Linked DNA regions of Homo sapiens. The protein of the gene in region 3 purifies or fractionates together with the protein of the main gene of each other region. This does not show direct contact. Each region holds a gene or a part of one and is shown on either strand. Other genes may lie near its edges.

What was found.
Region 1: the proteins of DCLK1 (region 3) and CGN purify together in Homo sapiens (affinity purification with mass spectrometry, with the first as the bait; one large-scale study listed by BioGRID). This does not show direct contact.
Region 2: the proteins of DCLK1 (region 3) and ITM2B purify together in Homo sapiens (co-immunoprecipitation; one large-scale study listed by IntAct). This does not show direct contact.
Region 4: the proteins of DCLK1 (region 3) and RAB40B purify together in Homo sapiens (affinity purification with western blotting, with the first as the bait; one study listed by BioGRID). This does not show direct contact.

Annotation. Positions count from the first base shown.
Region 1 is NC_000001.11:151,513,720-151,518,803, reverse strand, and holds part of CGN (cingulin), read right to left. Parts: intron 299-5,084; 5' UTR 285-298; coding exon 1-284. UniProt on the Homo sapiens protein: Probably plays a role in the formation and regulation of the tight junction (TJ) paracellular permeability barrier.
Region 2 is NC_000013.11:48,235,539-48,240,622, forward strand, and holds part of ITM2B (integral membrane protein 2B), read left to right. Parts: intron 1-5,084. UniProt on the Homo sapiens protein: Plays a regulatory role in the processing of the amyloid-beta A4 precursor protein (APP) and acts as an inhibitor of the amyloid-beta peptide aggregation and fibrils deposition. Plays a role in the induction of neurite outgrowth.
Region 3 is NC_000013.11:35,805,285-35,810,368, forward strand, and holds part of DCLK1 (serine/threonine-protein kinase DCLK1), read right to left. Parts: intron 3,812-5,084; coding exon 3,734-3,811; intron 3,037-3,733; coding exon 2,940-3,036; intron 496-2,939; coding exon 415-495; intron 1-414.
Region 4 is NC_000017.11:82,691,282-82,696,365, reverse strand, and holds part of RAB40B (ras-related protein Rab-40B), read left to right. Parts: intron 1-5,084. UniProt on the Homo sapiens protein: RAB40B small GTPase acts as substrate-recognition components of the ECS(RAB40B) E3 ubiquitin ligase complex which mediates the ubiquitination of target proteins.

The DNA of each region.
Region 1 (5,084 bases), on a different chromosome or scaffold from region 3:
CTCAGAGCTCCTGAGGCCCCTTGGTCATTGGCCCCCTTGATTTGGACCCCAAAGGAGTCACCGCCTTTCTCCCCACTGTTGAGCACCACAAAGGGCTGCCCAGCGATTCCCTGCACACGCACAGCAACCCCGTAGGTACTGGCTCTTGCATCCTTAGCTGGGCGTCGTCCACCTCGACGTAGAGTGCCCATCTCTGCACCACTCACTGGCTCTGTGATGAAGCGAATCTGGACTCCATGGTCTACGGGGCCCCGGGGCTCAGCCATGTTGGGTGCCTGCTCCATAAATAGGAGGAGTCCTAGAAGATGAAGAAATGAGTTTAGGCTGAGAGACTTCACTAGAAACTATGAAACTTCTACCTGCGGGCTGACTTCCCTGTCAGTTCCTACTAGATAAACCACTGATTCTCAGACTAACAGAAGGCCCCTGGAGAGCCTTTTAACATACCGGTTGCTGGACCTAACCTCCAGAGCTTCTGATTCAGTAGGTCTGGGTTAGGACTTGAGAATTTGCATTTCTAACCAAGTTCCCCAGGTGATACTGATGCTACTGGTCCAGGTACCACACTTTGAGACTCACTAACCTAAAAGAATCCACTTCCTCTGATACAGCCCTGGGGAGCTAGGCTTTGTTAAAAGTTTAAAGATTTTGCTTGATGGCCAGGAGCAGTGGCTCACACCTGTAATCCCACCACTTTGGAAGGCCAAGGCGGGTGGACTGCTTGAGCTCAGGAGTTCAAGACCAGTCCGGGCAACATGGTGAAACCCCATCTCTACAAAAAATACAAAAATAAACTGGGCCTGGTGGTGCACACCTGTAATCCCAGCTACTTGGGAGGCTGAGGTGGGAGGATCACTTGAGCTTGAGAGAGGCTGCAGTGAGCAGTGATTATGCCACTGTTCTCCAGCCTGGGTGACAGAGTGAGACCCTGTCTCAAAAAAAAAAAAAAAGATTTTACTTGATCTTCATACATACATATAATACCACCATGTGGCCAGGTACAGTGGCTCATGCCTATAATCCCAGCACTTTGGGAGGCTGAGGCAGGTGGATCACCTGAGGTCAGGAGTTCAAGACCAGCCTGACCAACACGGTGAAACCTTGTCTCTACTAATAATACAAAAACTTAGCTAGGCGTGGTGGCGCATGCCTGTAATCCCAGCTACTCAGGAGGCTGAAGCAGAAGAATTGCTTGAACCCGGGAGGTGGAGGTTGCAGTGAGCCGAGATTGCGCCACTGCACTCCAGCTTGGGTGACAAAAGCAAAACTCTATCTCCAAAAAAAAAAAAAAAAAACACTGTGTGCCTTCTTCCCTTCCTCCCACCAAGGGAAGGCAGAACCCACACCCTGCTGAGCAGATACCTCCATCTCACTGGAGAAAAGGGGGCCTTCTCTCCCAGAGCTCATTTAAAATATAGAAGACCTCAAAGTATATCATCCCACTTCTGGAAAGAAACTTAAAAACACTGATAGCAGTGATGCCTTTGAGGTGGAGGAACTGAGGACTAGGAACAGGGATGGGAGAGTTTCTATTCTCTGGAAGAGCAGAAAGGAGTGGACATTCTACTGTATATCTCTTATGTCCCTTTTGAATTTGGAACCACGTAGATGTATTATCTATTCAAGAAAAGGTTGTGTTTTTTTTGAGACAGAGTTTTGCTCTTGTTGCCCAGGCTGAAGTGCAATGGCGTGATCTTGGTTCACTGCAACCTCTGCCTCCCGAGTTTAAGCAATTCTCCTGCCTCAGCCTCCCGAGTAGCTGGGATTACAGGCACCTGCCACCATGCCCGGCTAATTTTTGTTTTTAGTAGAGATGGGGTTTCACCATATTGGCCAGGCTGGTCTCAAACTCCTGACCTCAGGTGATCTGCCCGCCTCAGCCTCCCAAAGTGCTGGGATTACAGGCATGAGCCACGCACCCAGCCAAAAATATTTAAATGTGGTTTAAAAACTGTGCCACTCGGCCGGGCATGGTGGCTCACGCCTGTAATCCCAGCATTTTCAGAGGCCAAGGCGTGTGGATCACCTGAGGTCAGGAGTTTGAGACCAGCCTGACCAACATGGTGAAACCCTGTCTCTACTAAAAATACAAAATCAGCCGGGCGTGGTAGCGGGGGCCTGTAATCCCAGCTGCTCGGGAGGCTGAGGCAGGAGAATCGCTTGAACCTGGGAGACGGAGGTTACAGTGACCCAAGATCACGCCATTGCACTCCAGCCTGGGCAACAAGAGTGAAACTCTATCTCAAAAAAAAAAAAAAAAAGTGCCACTTTAAGGGGCCCCAGGTCAGGTAAACTTGTCTCAGCTGAGAGCCAGAGCCAACACCATCCATAGGCCAGCTTCCCAGGTCCACATTGCTAAAGCTCAGAGTCAGCAAATGGAATGTATTCCAGGTATGCTCTGGCTCCAGGAACTTGGGGGAGAGATTGTCTTCCAAGCAAATAAAAAAATTCAGCTTCCCCACCCCTTCTGCTAGTCTCCACCAGAGCCTAGCACCAAACTGGAGGATGAGCCTCTAACGTGCCAGACAGAAACACAAACATACCCAACTCAACCTCCCCATGGAGTTCTGGGCCAAGGAAACTTGGCAAGGCCCCTTTCAGGGACTGTAAAGTGCTAGCAAGCCAGGGTGAGATGAGAAGGGAGGGGAAGGGATGGGAGAGGCAGAGCTACAGGTGACAAAGGGCTTGGTGGGGAAGGTCTATCTGAAGAAGAGCATTCTTAGAATTCCCAGCAATTCTCAAGAGAAAGGAACAGGGAGAGAAGAGCCCTTTATTAGGAATTGTTCTTCATCTTTTTGGCCCTGGGACTCCATGAGAAAATGATGAAAGCAATACACTCTCCCTGAGGAGACAGCACATCCAAACTTTTATCACCCCATCTTAAAAGGCTTGTGAAGGCAGACAGGTAAAGTAGTTCTCCAAACCACTCATCCAGTAGAAGAAAATGCACTGGGCTAGAGTCAGGATCTGGTCTGGAATCCTGTCTCTGCTCTTCACCTGATGTATGCAACCTGAGGCAAATCACAACTTTTCTGGTGTGGTGGCTCACGCCTGTAATCCCAGCATTTTGGGAGGCCAAGGTGTGTGGATCACTTGAACTCGGGAGTTTGAGACCAGCCTGAGCAATATGGCAAAACCCCATCTCTACAAAAAATACAAAAAACTAGCCGAGTATGGTGGTACACACCTGTAGTCCCAGCGACTTAGGAGGCTGAGGCAGGAGGATCACCTGAGCCCAGGAGGTTGAAGCTGCAGTGAGCTGTAATTGCACCACTGCACTCCAGCTTGGGCAATAGAGTAAGACTCTGTCTCAAAAACAACAACGACAACAAAAAACCCACAACTTTTCTGTGCCTCAGTTTCCTCATCTGTAAAATGGGTATAATGATAATACCCCACAAGGTTATTATCTGTGAGAATGAGATAATAAATAATTATATGGGCATATACAATGATAAAAAAGTACCAAGTTATACCCTTAAGATCTTTGTACTTTATTTAGGCCAGGCGCAGTGGCTCATGCCTGTAATCCCAACACTTTGGGAGGCTGAGATAGGCAGATCACCTGAAGTCAGAAGTTCAATAACAGCCCGGCCAACATGGTGAAACCCCACGTCTACTAAAAATACAAAAATTAGCTGTGCGTGGTGGTGCACGCCTGGAATCCCAGCTACTGGGGAGGCCGAGGCAGGAGAATTGCTTAAACCTGAGAGGCACAGGCTGCAGTGAGCCGAGATCCGCCAGCCTGGGTCACAGAGCAGGACTCCATCTCAAAAAAAAAAAAAAAGATGTTTGTACTTTATTGAACTTGGGTTCTAATTTAATAAAAAGGAGAGAAAAACAAGATATTAAACATGAAAACATTTAGCATGTGACTATCACAAAGCTGACAACAAATATCATCCTTCACACATGCTACTTTGTCCAACAGGCACTTTTGGCTTCACCTGGTTCATAGAAAGATGTCACTTCTTCAGAGAAGCCTTCCCTGACCACCACTCCCACAAACAAGGTCAGTTCTCACAAATCAGCCTCCCACAAACCAGGTCAGATCCACGTTATACGCTCTATAGTTGTCCTTCAGCAGGTTTACTCCAGTTTATATTTATACATTTATTGGAGTAATTATTTCCTGTCTGTCTCCCCTACGAGATAATAAGCTCCTGGAGGGCAAAGACCATGGCTAGCAGCTAACCACTGTGTCCCCAGGTGTTTGGACACGTGGTAGATGTCAACAAATATTTGTTAAAGGCTGTATCCTGAACTAAAGCCCACTTGCACAGCAGTGGGGAGATTTGCCCAGGACAAATCTACTTTGCCTCAGTAACAGGACCTCTTAGCAACAGGACCTCCTCCTGGTCCAGACTTGCTGCCCTATGTAGTCATGATCTTAGAACCAGAAGTGCCTAGATTGCCAGCTCTCAGAAGCCATATGATTTATTCATGATGCAGTCTACCCTGTCAGTACATCTACTGATCTTCCAGATCCAGGTCAAGGAGTTCCCAGCCTAGGCCCAGCAGAGGGCACAGACCCTTGAGCAACAGCACTAAATTATTCAGAGGCAGTGTTGAACACTCCCCCAGGTCCCAGGTTAGGTTAACTCCCTAACCTCAATCACCTTCAGTCCAAGGACATGTGGATCAGGGGCCAGGAGGGCTGAAGGGATCTTTGGGGTGGGTCAGAAAGCAGGGCTCTAAATGATTCAACATGGAAAACCCGAAACCTACCCGCCTTTGGTTACAGAGGACAGTGGGGCGGGACCAAGGCAGCAGGGCAGCTCTGAGGCCTTGCGTAAGCCCCAGAGACAGGCAGGTAAACAGTGATCAAGGGCCAGGCAACATGGAGTCCAGGGCCTGCGCCCTCACCAATGCCTGACCCTACTTTTCTCTCCCCTATCACATGTCCAGGGCTCTCCTCACCAACTGTACTCCAGGAAGAGACCAGACCACAAGTTGATTCAGGTGCATCTGTCTGCTTCTGCCTTTCCTGCCTGCAAGGAGTGGGAGAACACTCTACACCTGTACCAGACAGCCACTTCTCCCTGAGTTACTCATTAGCCTGCCCTGCCCCAATTCCATCACCT
Region 2 (5,084 bases), about 12 Mb from region 3:
TTATAATCAGTCAGTCGCTTAACGGGAAAAGGAAAACCTTAATGACAGACTTTTGTGAAAGAAGTTCTGATCTCTTCATTTCAGAGCTTGGGCAGTGATTACATAATGTTCTCTGGCTCCTTGCGGGTGGCTCTGTGGCAGCCACCTTGTCTGACTGCCTGGACTGGGAACAGAATCAGCCTTAATGTGTTTTGCCGAGGGCATTTCCTTTGCCTGGTTGGTTGAAAGAATCAAACCAAGCTAGTTAATGGCCTAGAACTCCTGAACAAGAATTTTTCTTATCTTTAACCCTCCCAGATCACAATATCCCGCAGACCATTGTTTTCCAAAATGTGCTCTTAGGGACCACCTGCTCTGGTTTTAAAATGCAGATTCTGTTACCTTATGCCACAAGAATTCTGATCACTCTAATCAGCTGGCTTATATAACATGCATTCCAGTACTTTTACATTGCTCCTGTCTTTCTATTTTTTTCTTCTGCAGGGTGAGAACTCTCCAGAAACAGTTCTATTACCCCATTTTTCAGTCTTATCTTTTCAGCAGCTATTAATCCTAACAGCCATTTCTATTGATAGTTTTATCTCAACTAGCTTGCTGTTTATTCTTTTCCTGCATTTTCCCCTTAATTGTTTTCACCTTCCTCCTCTCCTAGTAGGCATAAAGCTCTTAGAGCTATAGAGACAGCAAAGATGGGATGTATTTTGGGTAGCAGAAGTGAATTTGAAATTATATACATGTTTTATGCTATAGGCAACAATTCATATATTTTTGTGGCAATACTTTGAACCTTGGGAAATTGTTTTATATTTGCAGATAACAAAATACTTGATGTACTGTATCAGAAGTCCCAGTTTTGTCATTACATAACTACTTGATCTTGGGCTTAAATTTTTAGGTTTTCTGTCTGTAAGATGAGAGGGTAGGACCAGATGGCCTGTAAGGATTCTTCCAGTTTCAAAAATCTATGAAGATGCTAGGATTACATAATTATATTTGGCAGACATTAAATTGTTTTAATTGTGAAAAATAGCAACTACCTCCTCACTCTAACCAGACTATTCCCTTTCTTCCTTTTGGTGTTTAACATGTTACATTCTTCCCTCATATCAAGTAGCAGTGGGTCAAAGAGAAAGGAGATGGGTAGAGGTATTATGTAATAAAGCACATTGTCACTTCTGTTTACCTCACAGTGAACAGTGAAGTTGTCAGCACCTCTTTGTTGCAATGCCTGCTTATGAAACCCCTTTTCCAGTATCAGGCCACAGAATAGCTTAAGCTTGCTTCATATGTATCCCTGCAAGTTGTTTTGCTGACAAATAGTGTTGCTTTCTCTCTACCCCACTTTGTAGATATTCTTTAAAAGGAGAGAGAAAAGTAAAGTGCTGATATAGGAGAGAAAATAGTGGCAGGGTGAGTGCAAGAGAGAAAGTGAAGGCCGACTCACCCAGTAAAAGTTTTGAGTTACCCATGACAAATGGCTGTTTAGACCCTGGTTCTTTACCCTTTCTGGTTTTCCCTATTCACACAATCAAGACTGAAGGTTTTGATAATTAAGCTTTTCGTTTGTGGTGGTGGTTTTGTTTGTGTGTTTTTTGGGGAGTGAGGAGAAGGGACATAAAATGCATGGCTGGCCATTTACTATAATGTTGATATAATGCTCTCAAGGGATTGAGAGCTTGGTTCTCTTTAACCAAAGTGCATCTTATTACCTAGTTATGTAATTCCGTGTTTGCAGATATTGGCCAGTGAAACTTTTACATTACATTTTGGTTCTCCATGAGGATATTAATATCTGAATTGAGGGTTTAGTGCTGGGAAATAAATGAATTGCGTCTGTGCATCCCAAATGCCTTGGCAGGACCTCCTGTGTACACATCCCTGACAGGACACTGCTGTAGCATATTGGGTGTGCAAGGTTGCATATTGCACAGGATTGTAGTCTTCCCAACTAGACAGAAATGAGTATAATATACTTGGCATAATAAGCCTGAGTGACCTCATGGAATTCAACTCTGACATATAAAAGGTTTATGTGACTGGAAGTATTTTTTAAGCAGAAATATCTCAAATACGTTTATGTTACAGGCCTATTTAAATTAATTTAGAATTTGACTTACAAGGTGTTTATTATGCATTTCCAAATCTTGACTTGTGGGTAAATGTACATAGAAACATGTACTAAGTAGTCATTGGGGGAGATTTTATTTCTCTTAGTTTTATCATACCATAACTTAAATGTCTGGCGTGTCTATTCAAAACCCACATTCTTTTTCCAAAAGGAAATACTACTTCCTGAATTCCTAGATTTAACTAAAGCTTCTTGTACTGCTTTGTATGTCAGTGTCAGTAAAGGAAGACTCAGAAAAAAAAATCTTTTTGGGTTACCAGTAAAATCATCCTCTTAAATTTTTTGGCAAACGTGGCATTTTATTAGAGCTTAAAGACTAAAGGAAAAGAAATTAAGGACTTTAGACCGTTACTGAAACCTGTTAAAGGATTTGACAATTCTGAATTTCTGAATGAGGTGATTTTTGCCTAAATGATATACAAAATATTAACACTGGAGCTGTGCTTCACAATGAAAGTCTTTTCCAAAGTAGACAGCTGAAAGTTGAAAATTGGAAATTATAACACTAAGGACATCATTTTTGAAAAATTTCCACTTAATTGTGATTATCCCTTTTAATTAGTACTTACAACACATATTTTTAATAGCTTTAAGGAGATCTACAATACAACCTCATTTTATAAGTGTTATCAACAATTGAATGAACAAGATTATTTTAAATTATTGTGCATTCTTTAAGCTCTTTTATTAGAGGAAAAAACTTTTTGCAGTATTTCTATAATTGTACTTGGGGAAAAATCAGGTAAGAATGAACGTAGACTTTTTATTCTTAAACAGAAAAGTTTGAATCTTGAGTTGTAGCGATGAGGAAATTACCCTTGTTTTTATGGTAGAGATATATTCTGATTTTTCACTTAATGTTTTATCTTTCAGTACTGATAAGTTACCAGCAATAATTTTATGATGTTGAACTAACATAAGTACGACAAAAGAGAAATAAAATTTTCACAGCTTATATATAATACCACTTCTGAGTTAAATATCCTGGACGTTTATTTGGGAAAGTGATACTAAGTATGGTGGTGGATATTTTGTACTTTGAAATTTTGAAATATTTGCATAAACCGTTTTTGGCATAGTTGAATTTCATACTTTAAAAAACAAGTTTGGTGGATTTTTGTGTTTATTTGAATGATTAACTTTAAGGCTCAAATTATTATTTTTTTTTAGTGAAAGCAAGTTTATTAAGAAAGTAAAGGAGTAAAAGAATGGTACTGCATAGGCAGAGCAGTCAAGATGCAAATTATTTTTAAAAGTTGTTTGTTTTCAGAATGAGTTAAGGATAAAGCTTAAGTCTTAACTATTTTCTCTGCTTATATATGATTATAATGTTTTAAATTATTTTATATAAAAATTTTAAAAGATGCATTGTTAATTAAATCACTTGAATCTCTGCAGTATCCAAAAGCAGACCCATTTTTATGCTGGGGAAAATGATTTTTGAGAGCTAGTCTATTTAGCTTTGCATTATCAGTTTTCAGTTTTTCATTTTATATAACTTTATCCAATTCATTTTTTCCTCCCTTTAATACTGGGACATAAAATTTCCTGTCTATCAGTTTTACCTAGGGCCGTGCTAGGCATCTTAAGCAGAGAAGGCAAATTCAGTGTCTCCTGGGCTGAAGCAGATGAATTGTTGAAGCTGGACTTTTTGCATATGAAACAAGTAAGAATATTCTTGGTTTTCCTGCCAGGCGCAAGCCACCGCCTGTAATCCCAGCACTTTGGGATACTGAGGCTGGTGGATCACCTGAGGTCAGGAGTTCGAGATAAGCCTGGCCAACATAGCAAAATTCTGTCTCTACTAAAACAAAAATTAGCCAGGCGTGGTGGCATGCGCCTGTGATTCCAGCTTTTTGGGAGGCTGAAACAGGAGAATCGCTTGAATCTGGGAGATGGAGGCTGCAGTGAGCTGAGATTGCGCCATTGCATTCCAGCCTGGGTGACACAGCAAGACTCTGTCTCAAAAAACAAAAGAATATTCTTGGTTTTCATTTTTAAAACATGAGTCCAGTGTTGCTGGATCCTCCAATTTTCCAAGGCAAGCTAAAAATCAGTACTATTTTAATTTATACAACAATTTTAGCCCAAAACACTGAAGGCATGGGCCACTATTTTATAATCTCCTTTAAAGTGGAACGCAGGACTGGCAAATTATAGCCTATATCTTCAAATACTGCCTGCCTGCTGTTTTTCTGTAGCCCATGGGGTAAGAATGATTTTTATATTTTTTAATGGTTGGGAAAAATATCAAAGGAATGATATTTCTCCTTTTTGCCCAGTACCCTCACTGAATTGTTGGGGAGGGGCTGCTGCTATTCAGGAAGCAGCAGCACTAGCAGAATTCAGGTTATACAGTCATTCTTCAAAAGATTTAAATTTTGTCTCTATCACTTACTTTGATACCTTGGGTAAGTTACTTCAGTTCTCTGTGTCTCAGTTTTTTCATCAGCAAAATAGGGAAAATAATAATCTGTAACAATAATAGCACAATGCCTGGAACAGAGTTAAAAATTAGTAGATTTCAGCTACTGTTATTTTTATTTATTTTTTTGTTGAGAAACAGTCTTGCCCTGTCACCCAGGCAGGAATGCAATGGTGTGATCTTGGCTCACTGCAGCCTCTGCCTCCCGGGTTCAAGTGATTCTCCTGCCTCAGCTTCCCAAGTAGCTGGGATTACAGGCACCTGCCACTATGCCTGGCTAATTTTTTGTATTTTTAATAGAGACGGGGTTTCACCATGTTGGCCCGGTTGGTCTCGAACTCCTGACCTCTTGATCAACTACTATTATTAAAGTCCCAGTTTTCTCTCCTCATCATTCTTGTTTTGGAATATTACTTCTTATATTACTGTTACTGCTTATCCCTGCCTCACATGTCAGTAACAATATTGTTGGTACTTTTTTCACAGCAAGGCATTCTGGTAAAGATTGATTCCTGCAACATAAAAACCCTT
Region 3 (5,084 bases):
ATGGAACACAACACTTTTTTCTTTTTTTTTTAGATGATGTCTCACTCTGTCATTCAGGTTGGAGTGCAGTGGCACGATCTTGGCTTACTACCACCTCTGGTTTCCAGGGTCAAGCAATCCTACCACCTCAGCCTCCTGAGTAGCTGGGACCACAGGCTTGTGCCACTATGCCCAGCTAATTTTTTGTATTTTTTGGTAGAGATGGGGTTTTGCCATGTTGCCCAAGCTGTCCTCGAACTCCTGAGCTCAGGCAATCCACCCACCTCGGCCTCCCAAAGGGCTGAGATTACAGGCGTGAGACACTGCGCCTGGCCCACAACACTTTCAAAAGGAGGCAATAACATTAGAAAATCTGCAACTGATTTTTAAAAGGAATGTTAGGAGAGAACAAAGGAAATGGTGCGAGTCACTTACATTAACCCAGGGATGCTCAAGTACTTGAACAGCAGAAAATCGCTGATCTACATCGACCAACAGCATCATGGTAATGAGCTCCTGTGAAGGGGAACGTTAGAGTCCATTTATCTGAATTTAAGGTGAAAAGCTGTATGTGTGCAAATGCAAGAGTTCTCTTTTAGTTTCGAAAAGCATTTGTAAAAGCTCTAAATCTTAAATACATCAACTCCACTTACCTGTGGCTATTTATCACCTTCAAAAGTTAAAAATGGTAAGCACTTGGAATTGTAAATACATAGCTTGTGGTTGAATAAAAATTAAATTAATATCAGAATCATTTTCATAAAAATGTTTGTAATAGAAAAGAAATTATACAAGTTAAGGAATTAATATTCCTTTCTTTGTCTAGCATTTTGCATGTTAAAGACAGATTTATTAATTAGTTTAATATAGAAGTCACATTTAAAAAAACACTTTACTTAAAATTTCACTTTAGCAGCTGAAAGGAAAAATGAAAATTTCCCCCTAATTTCAAGACGGCATACTTAGGTTTGAAAGAAAGGTATGAGGAAAGACATAGAATTGGGTCTTTCCCCAATTCTGGGTGGCAAGATAGAATTGATCCTTTAGTAGCTAAAGAATTCTAAAGAAACATGTTACAATTGCTTGAAAAATTTCCAGACAAATCAATACAAAGAAAAATAGAACTATTGAGAGGTAAACAATTTCATCATCCTGAAATTAATGGAACTTCCTCATGAGCTCAAATGGACTTGGACCAGGAATGCTCTACCTGGGTCTTAACGATGAGTATGCTATACAATTGTCCACTCTGGATTAGAAGTTCCCATGTCACAAAATGGTTAGATATGCATTATCCAGTTCCTTACATACACAGGCTTTATAGTACCACTCGGGAAGGGGGTGATTTAATTTCATTGAGGGAGAGAGTTCACTCAGCCTTCTTCATTCAGTTTCTAACTTGGATCAGAACTCGTGAAAGTATCTGCTGTGTGTGATGCCCTTTGCAGGTGCTATGGAGGTGTAGGAGATGGTCCTATTTGTCAGTAACTGTGAGCCCTCAGATCCTGCAGTGATGGCATGGGGAGCTGGACAGGTTCCTGAAGAGCCCCCGGCCCTGCAGCTGTATCGTCCCATCTCCTTTAGCCTGCGCCTTTCTCTGACACTCCCTTTCTGGCAGCTTCCTGGACAGTTGAAGAAAATGAGAGACTTGCACTCAATATGCATCATTTTCTACACAAAGTGGTCATGTCTGAGGGGTTGGCTTTTAAAGGGAACTCACATTCAGGACATGACAAAAGCAAAGGCATAAACATTGAGCAATCAAAAGATAATTATTTCTCAAGATAATTATTGAGAACATTTTTCTCAAATTTTTAAACATTTAAGTCAGCACTCGGAGACATAAATTTTAAAAAGAGCAATGAAAAGGTTTTCCTTTTTCTCCTCAAGGTCTACAAACATCTCAATGTAAGATTTTTATAGCCTTCTTAGAAGTTGATTTATCATAAATATTATTTAATGTGGTAAAATATACATAAAATTTACCACTTCAACCATTTTCAAGTGCACAGTTCACTGACATTCAGTGCATTCACATTGTTGTGCAACCATCACCTTCATCCATGTTAAGGACTGATCTTTTAGTTTCATGGGATAAAAACAATGAACCTTGTGTTTTCCTCCCCCTCTGCCTCTAAATCCTGGCTATTATTCAAGGTTCAACTTAAATCATAGCTTCCCCATAAAGTCTTTCTTGATGATTTCAACCTACGTTGAGGTTGAGTTTTCTTCCTTCTGATTAATTGATGGATTCATTCATATACTTGTTCATTTATTCAGTATACATTGAGCACCAGTATGCTGGTCATACTTTAGGCAGGGATAGTACAGCAATGGACAAAATAGATAAAAATCCCTGCCTTCGCAGAATTTGCATTCTAGTGGAGAGAGTCTGGAAATGAACTATATAAAGAAGACATGCCTACTTATTTATATCTATCTTTTTTTGGGTAGAGAGATAGGTAGTTAGATAGCACACCAGATGGACACACAGGTGTTAAGTGTTCTGGAGAAAAATAAAACAGACAAGTAGGATACAGCAAGCCAGGTAAGGTTTAAGAGATGCAATTGGAACCAGGATGGTCTGGGAAGGCTTCACTGGGAAATTAAGTCATTAAGTCAAGAGCTGAGAGAGGTGAAACCACAGGCCATATAGAAATCTGAGCTGGGCTCAAGCCTGGCGAGGGTGGGGCACAGCAAGAGGCTATAGCAATGTCACTGGAATGGCACCTGAGAGAGATGAAGGCAGCAGATGGAGACACTTGATAAGTACTTGTTGGGATGTCTGGGAACAGATGACTTGATGACTGTGAAATCTTGGAAAACCTAGCAATTACAACTAAAATGTGTACAGAAATCATACTTATGATGTCATTAGTTTCTTTGCACACAATGATTTGGAAAAATAATTCCGTTAAGACACACAGAATATAGGGAAGAGGAAGGCACTGGACACCTACCTTTGCAGAATCGGAAACATTATCCCAGTATGGAGAAGGAAAGTCCACCTGCCCCATCAAAATCTGATCAAAAAGCACCTCCTGGTCATCACCACTTCTGTTTAGGTGAACGACAACAAGGAAAAACAGCACTAAGATATCAACTCAGTGTACATCTTTTCAGTCTTAGGCACTGGAGCCCTTCCTTTCCCCCCATAAATGTGTAAAAATGTGTATTTTTAATCGATTGAAAAATGTCAATGTGGATCTGTTTTGGTAAATTAAGAAAGAGTTTTTGGGCCGGGTGCGGCGGCTCACACCTGTATTCCCAGCATTTCAGGAGACTGAGGCAGGTAGATCACTTGAAGTCAGGAGTTCAATACCAGCTTGGCCAACATGGTGAAACCCCCATCTCTACTAAAAATACAAAAAGTAACTGGTGTGGCGGCGCACGCCTGTGATCCCAGCTATTCAGGAAGCTGAGGCAGGAGAACTGCTTGAACTTGGGAGGCAGAGGTTGCAGTGAGCTGAGACTGTGCCACTGCACTCCAGACTGAGCAAAAGAGAGACTCTGTCTCAAAACCAGAAAGAAAAAAAAAAAAAGAAAGAATGAGTTTTTAATGATATGGGGAAGAAATATGGAAGGCATATAAATTAGCATGCATGACATAACAGGGAAAAAATAACAGGGATTGCAAGTAAAGTTCTTGTGCTCTTTTCCTGCTGCAGGCTCCTTTGTGCAAGAAGGGCTAATGGATCACTCAGAGAGTAGAGAAATGCTTTGTCGGCGCTGAATAAAAGATTGTTGCCCATACCCACGGAATGGAGGGAAACCACACAGCAGGATATAAGTGATTACACCTGCTGCCCAGATGTCCACCTTGAGGCCGTATCTGGAAAAATAAGGGATGTTAGAGTTAGGAGGGTCAGGCTCGGACAAATTATGCAGCTTGGTAAAATCAATGACTTTCCTCCTCCAAGCCAAAAATAAAACCAAACAAAATAACAATCCCAACAACAAACGCTAAACTAAAACCCACCACCTAAACAGAGTTCAAAGAAAAAGTTTAAAAAATAATAATTTTAAAAAAGACCAAGGTGCAGGAATAAAAATCAAAGGAATGCATTGCTGGACTTATTTGTAAATATCAGTAAATGAAGGTTTTCAGCAAAAAGGTTTATTATAGTAATAACAATTCTGAGATAAGGATGGACCCTTGAGATAAACTCCCTCACTTTAGGAATAATAATTATTTCTAGAACGTTTTCCAATTTATAGAGCACTGACATACATGATCGTACTTTGTTTTCCTAGCAACTCTGTAGGTTGGACAAGACAAGTATTGCTTATTGTACAGAAGAGAGAAAACAGGTTCAGATGGGTGAGTAATTTTGCTTAAGATCACACAGTTAGTGTCAGAGCTGGTCCCCAATATGGTCTTCAAGACCCACCACTTCCTCCCAGCAGCAAGCAGAGCATGTCCCAGTAGAAAGTGTGTCTGTGCCCCAGGCAGCCCCACCTGAGGGAGGTCAGACAAGGCTATGGATGTGGGCTCCCACCTCATTCAAATTTGCCAAGTAGCAAAGTCCTCATTCCCTCACATCTCGCCTCAGGAATTTCCCTATTGGGATTCCCTTCTCATCTATTTGGTTTTTCTGCCCTTGTGGTCTATGGTACAAGCAAAAAACAAAACAAAACAAAACCTCGAAAAACTATCTCCAACTGGTCACAGGGGAGAGTGCCACCTAGATTCCCAGCTGTGGACTGAAACTGCTAATGAGAAGAAAAAGTAGGGCTGCCTCCCCTCAGTGCCCCACCCTGTTATTCCTTCTGCTTAAGGATGGCACCTCAGAGCCTGCCTATGGCCCTTGGTAAGAAATAGGGCTTCTTACCAAAGGAGTCTTTGACTCAGGCTGACCTGAGTTCAAATCCTGACTCAACCACTAAAACTAATCATGAGCTTGCATGGTATCTAACCCATTAGAGTTTCAATTTATTGAAGTGCAAAATGGGAATCAAACCATCGACTGGAAGAGTAAGAAGTAAAGGAGTTTCAGGCCTAGCATATTGTGGGGTCTTAGTAAGGAATAGGCTACCCCACCCTTCTCCCCACATTCATCTGATTCTGCACACAGAAACCAGGAAATTCCCAATGGTCCCTGATG
Region 4 (5,084 bases), on a different chromosome or scaffold from region 3:
AGAAGGGTCACGCACAGAATGTTTGTGAAACTTCCTTCTGGTTGGTTTGAATGGAGGCTCGGGGATGCTTCTGCTGCGTGACTTTTGGTTGCTACATGCCGAACTGAGGACGAACCAAAACAATGGTCCAATGCTTTGTAATAAAGGCTTTCCCTTGACACGGAGGGAGGATTTAGGCTAAAAATACACCTCCCACCGGGCCGGGGGCGGTGGCTCACACCTGTAATCCCGGCTTTGGGAGGCCAAGGCGGGCGGATCACCTGAGGTCAGGGGTTCGAGACCAGCCTGATCAACATGGAGAAACCCTGTCTCTACTATAAATACAAAAATTAGCCGAGCATGGTGTCACATGTCTGTAATCCCAGCTACTCGGGAGGCTGAGGCAGGAGAATTGCTTGAACCCGGGAGGCGGAGGTTGCAGAGATCGCACCATTGTACTCCAGCCTGGGCAACAAGAGCGAAATTCTGTCTTAAAAAAAAAATCCCATCAAGAGCTTTATTGTCTACTTGGCCTGAGCTGCTGTAGAAAAAACTGATATCACGGGTGTACCCTTGCAGGTTTTTGATTTACCAAATATTTGTTTTAGAGTTAAGAAAAGATATTCTGAAAAATAGTAAGAAGTTGAGATCATTATGTTTTGTTTTTTATTTTTTCAGAGACAGGGTCTTCTCTGCCGCCCAGGCTGGAGTGCAGTGGTGTGATTGCAGATCACTGCAGCCTTGACCCTCCTGGGTTCAAGCCATCCTCCTTTTTTGGCCTCCTCAAATGCTGAGATTATAGGCCTGAGCCACAGCACCTGGCCATGTTTTTTTTTTTTTTTAATGACATGTTTCGCTGAGAAACACTATAGGTGCTTGTTATTGAAAGGTGAGGGCAGCCGGGCGCAGTGGCTCACAGCTGTAATCCCAGCACTTGGGGAGGCCAAGGTGGGCGGGTCATGAGGTCAGGAGTTTGAGACCAGCCTGGTCAACATGGTGAAACCCTATCTCTACTAAAAATACAAAAATTAGCTGGGCGTGGTGCCGCGTGCCTGTAATCCCAGCTACTTGGGAGGCTGAGGCAGGAGAATCGCTGGAACCCAGGAGGTGGAGGGTGAAGTGAGCTGAGATCACACCATTGCACTCCAGCCCAGCGACAGAGTGAGATTTTGTCTCGAAAAAAAAAAAAGAAAGAAAGAAAGAAAGAAAGATGAGGGCGTTCGTAACTCCACACTCCATTTCCCTCCACCCAATTCCTCCTGAGTTTTGTAGCCCAGGCTGTTATTTTTATATTGTCCAGGTTTATAGCCCTTGCTTCTGTATTGTGGCTGTAGTGCCCGCAATGATTTAGTATCAATTCAACATTTAAATACAGTCAGTGCTCACCAAAGTCCTTTTACCATTTATGTCTCTGTTCATTGTGCTGTCCCTCTTAATCACCTAGATTTCATTATCAGTCGTTTTTTCAGAAGGACTCGAGTATTTCCTGAGTGTTTTTTTGTGTCTGAGAATGTCTGCCCATGGTCTTTATCTTTGAACAATGTAGAGATATCTTGGCTGGGTATAATACTCTTAGATTTATTTTCTTCCCCAACACTTTGCAGCTGTCATTCCACCATCCCCTGGCTCACATGTGCTGTGGGGAAGCCTGAGGTCAGCTGATTTTTCCCCATGTGGAGGCTTGTCCTTCCCTTCATGAATTTCTGAGGAATTCTTTCTTTTTGTCTCATAGTTCTTCTGCTTAACCAGACCATGTCTCAGAGTTGAATGTTTGTGTTAAACTTTTAGTATGAACGTACTCTTTGAGTTTCCAGGTGTGTGTGTGTATGTGTGTGTGTATGTATTTTTTTTTTCTTAGATGTAGTCTCAATCTGTTGCCCAGGTTGGAGTGCAGTGGTGTGATCTCACCTCACTGCAACCTCCACCTCCCAGGTTCAAGTGATTCGCCTGCTTCAACCTCCCAGGTAGCTGGGATTACAGGTGCCTGCCACCACACTGGGCCAATTTGTTTTTGTATTTTTAGTAGAGACGGGGTTTCCATGTTGGCCAGGGTGGTCTCGAACCCCTAACCTCAGGTGATCTGCTTAGCTCAGCCTCCCAAAGTGCTGGGATTACAGGTGTGAGCCACAGTGCGCGGCCTGAATTTTTCTGATTATCTTATGCCTTTCCTATTTGTTGGTAATTTTGATTTCAGTAAACTGTTCTAGCTGTTTCTAACTTATTGATTAGTTCAGTAAAGATGTTATTTTTGTCTCCTAATTTTCTCTTAGTTTTGGAGTTTTCCTTTTTTTTTTTTTTTTTTTTGAGATGGAGTCTCGCTCTGTTGCCCAGGCTGGAGTGCAGTGGCACGATCTCAGCTCACTGCAACCTCTGCCTCCCAGGTTCAAGCGATTTTCCTGTCTCAGCCTCCTGAGTAGCTGGGACTACAGGTGTGCGCCACCACGCCTGGCTAATTTTTGTATTTTTAGTAGAGACGGGGTTTCACTTTGTTAGCCAGGATGGTCTGGAACTCCGGGCCTAAGGTGATCTGCCCGCCTCGGCCTCCCAAAGTGCTGGAATTACAGGCGTGAGCCACTGCGCCTGGCCAATGTGCACTTCTGTGACTGTGTCTCTGGCCCCCGTTATGTGAAAGAGACTCTCCCATGTTGTGTGAGGCTGTGGGGTGTTAATTCTCATGGTGGTGACATCCCTTTTGTGACTCTACCGTGATTTATTCTCCATCCTGCGGGTGACGGGCATTTGGGTGGTTTCAGGTTTCTGACTATTATGGTTTGTTCTGCCATGAACATTCCTAGTACACATCCTTTGCATTTCTGTTGAAAGGTCCCTATGCGTGTGAATCGCTGGGTATCAGGCACGCAAATGTCTGCACAGGTTTCCCTGTAGTAGATTCTCGCAAAGCATTTTTCACTTGGTGCTCCCACCAGCAAAGCTGGAGGCCCCGGCTGCATCATCTTCCCTCTCAGCACGGGGCTGTCTCTGTCCTTCTGTGGTGTGTAGTTTGCCTTTGCATTTCTCTGATGACTGAGCACCTTTTCATACGTCTATGCGAAATTCCTCTTTGGAAAAATGCCCAAGTCGGCCGGGCCTGGTGGCTCACGTCTGCAATCCCAGCACTTTCAGAGGCCGAGGCGGATGGATCACCAGAGGTCAAGAGTTCGAGACCAGCCTGGCTAACTTGGTGAAACCCCATCTCTACTAAAAATACAAAAAAAAATTAGCCAGGTGTGGTGGCGGGCACCTGTATTCCCAGCTACTCGGGAGACTGAGGCAGGAGAAGCACTTGAACCCGGGAGGCGGAGGTTGCAGTGAGCTGAGATCGCACCACTGCACACCAGCCTGGGCAACAGAGTGGGACTCTGTCTCCAAAAAAAAAGAAAAAAAATAGAAACAGAAAGAAGAAAAATGCCCAAGTCTTATGTCTGTTTTTTCATTTAGGTTGAATTTCTTTCAATGCTTGCTAGGAGTGTTTAAAATATAGATTCTGGCTGTGAGTCCTTTGTCGGCTGTGTGATCCTGGATAGCCACTCTCATCTGCACGTCACCTTTCCACTCCTTCAGTGGTATTTTTGGATGAACAGAAGCTCTTAATTTTAACATAATCCAAATTATCAGTGTTTTGTGGTTAGGACTTTGGGTCCTGTTGAACAAACCTTTGCTGCTCCCAGATTTAAAAAAAAAATGTTCTCTACAAGCATCGTTTTACCTTTGACATGAATGGCTGCCTCCAGCTGGGGTGAGGCCTGAGGCAGGGATCGAGACACACTTTTTTCAGTCGGATGCCCCCCACCCCCACCCCGCATCGCACGGCCACCGTTGTCCCAGCTGAGAGCCCGCCTGTGGGTCTGGGTCTGCACCGTTGGCCCGCCTGTCTCTTGTGTGTGTGCCCCGGGTCAGACTCTGTCTTCTGTGGATGGGCATGCCCTGTGCTGGCCAGGGCAGTCAGATGCATCTTGTCCTTGCTCAGGCAGCTGTGCCCAGGTGTTCCCTTTGCTCCGATACGGTCAGCGAGGCCTGGATTCTCCCTCCTGGGCGTTTGTCTTCCTCTCGGTCTGTAGTTGCAGGGCAGAGTTCTTGGATCTTGGACCCTGTCGGCAACTTGACTCCACAGACTATGTGGACCCCACTGCTCTGCCTGTCACCTCAGCCCACGGACCGTGCGGGCCCCACTGCTCTGCCTGTCACCTCAGCCCACGGACCGTGCGGGCCCCACTGCTCTGCCTGTCACCTCAGCCCACGGACCGTGCGGGCCCCACTGCTCTGCCTGTCACCTCAGCCCACGGACCGTGCGGGCCCCACTGCTCTGCCTGTCACCTCAGCCCACGGACCGTGCGGGCCCCACTGCTCTGCCTGTCACCTCAGCCCACGGACCGTGCGGGCCCCACTGCTCTGCTGGTTACCCAGGGAAGTGTCTTCTGTTCTGCAACACACCTCACACACGCTGGTACCCCTGGTTCCTGGTGGCCTGGACCCCATTTCCGTCTGGCAGCTGGGTCCCCGGTTCACGCTCTTTCCCCTCGGAAGTTCCATTTCTCTCCAGGCAGGGGTAGAAGGAAGGCGTCACCAGGCTGGCCCAGGATATGGTCGGGGCACAGCAGGGCCCTGCCTTTCCGCCACCCCAGCTGGTGCTTCCAACACCAGATTGTGTCCCTTCTCTGAGTGCTGAGTTTTCTGCCTTTTGCCCATTTTTTTGTTGTTGTTTTTTGAGATGGAGTCTCGCTCTGTCGCCCAGGCTGGAGTGCAATGGTGCCACATCGGCTCACTGCAACCTCTGCCTCCTGGGTTCAAGTGATTCTCCTGCCTCAGCCCCCCGAGTAGCTGGGATTACAGGTGTACCATGCCCGGCTAATTTTTGTATTTTTAGTAGAGATGGGGGTTTCACCATGTTGGTCAGGCTGGTCTCGAACTCCTGACCTCAGGCAATCCGCCTGCCTGGGCCTCCCGAGTAGCTGGGATTACAGGCGTGAGCCACCGCGCCCGGCCTTTTGCACATGTTTATTGGTGACAGGGAGGGGGGTGGATTAACTACACCAGATGCCACCACCTCTTGCCTCCCACCCTTTTCCCCAGCATGAGGGCCTCATTGTCTTCTCCAATCCTTTCTC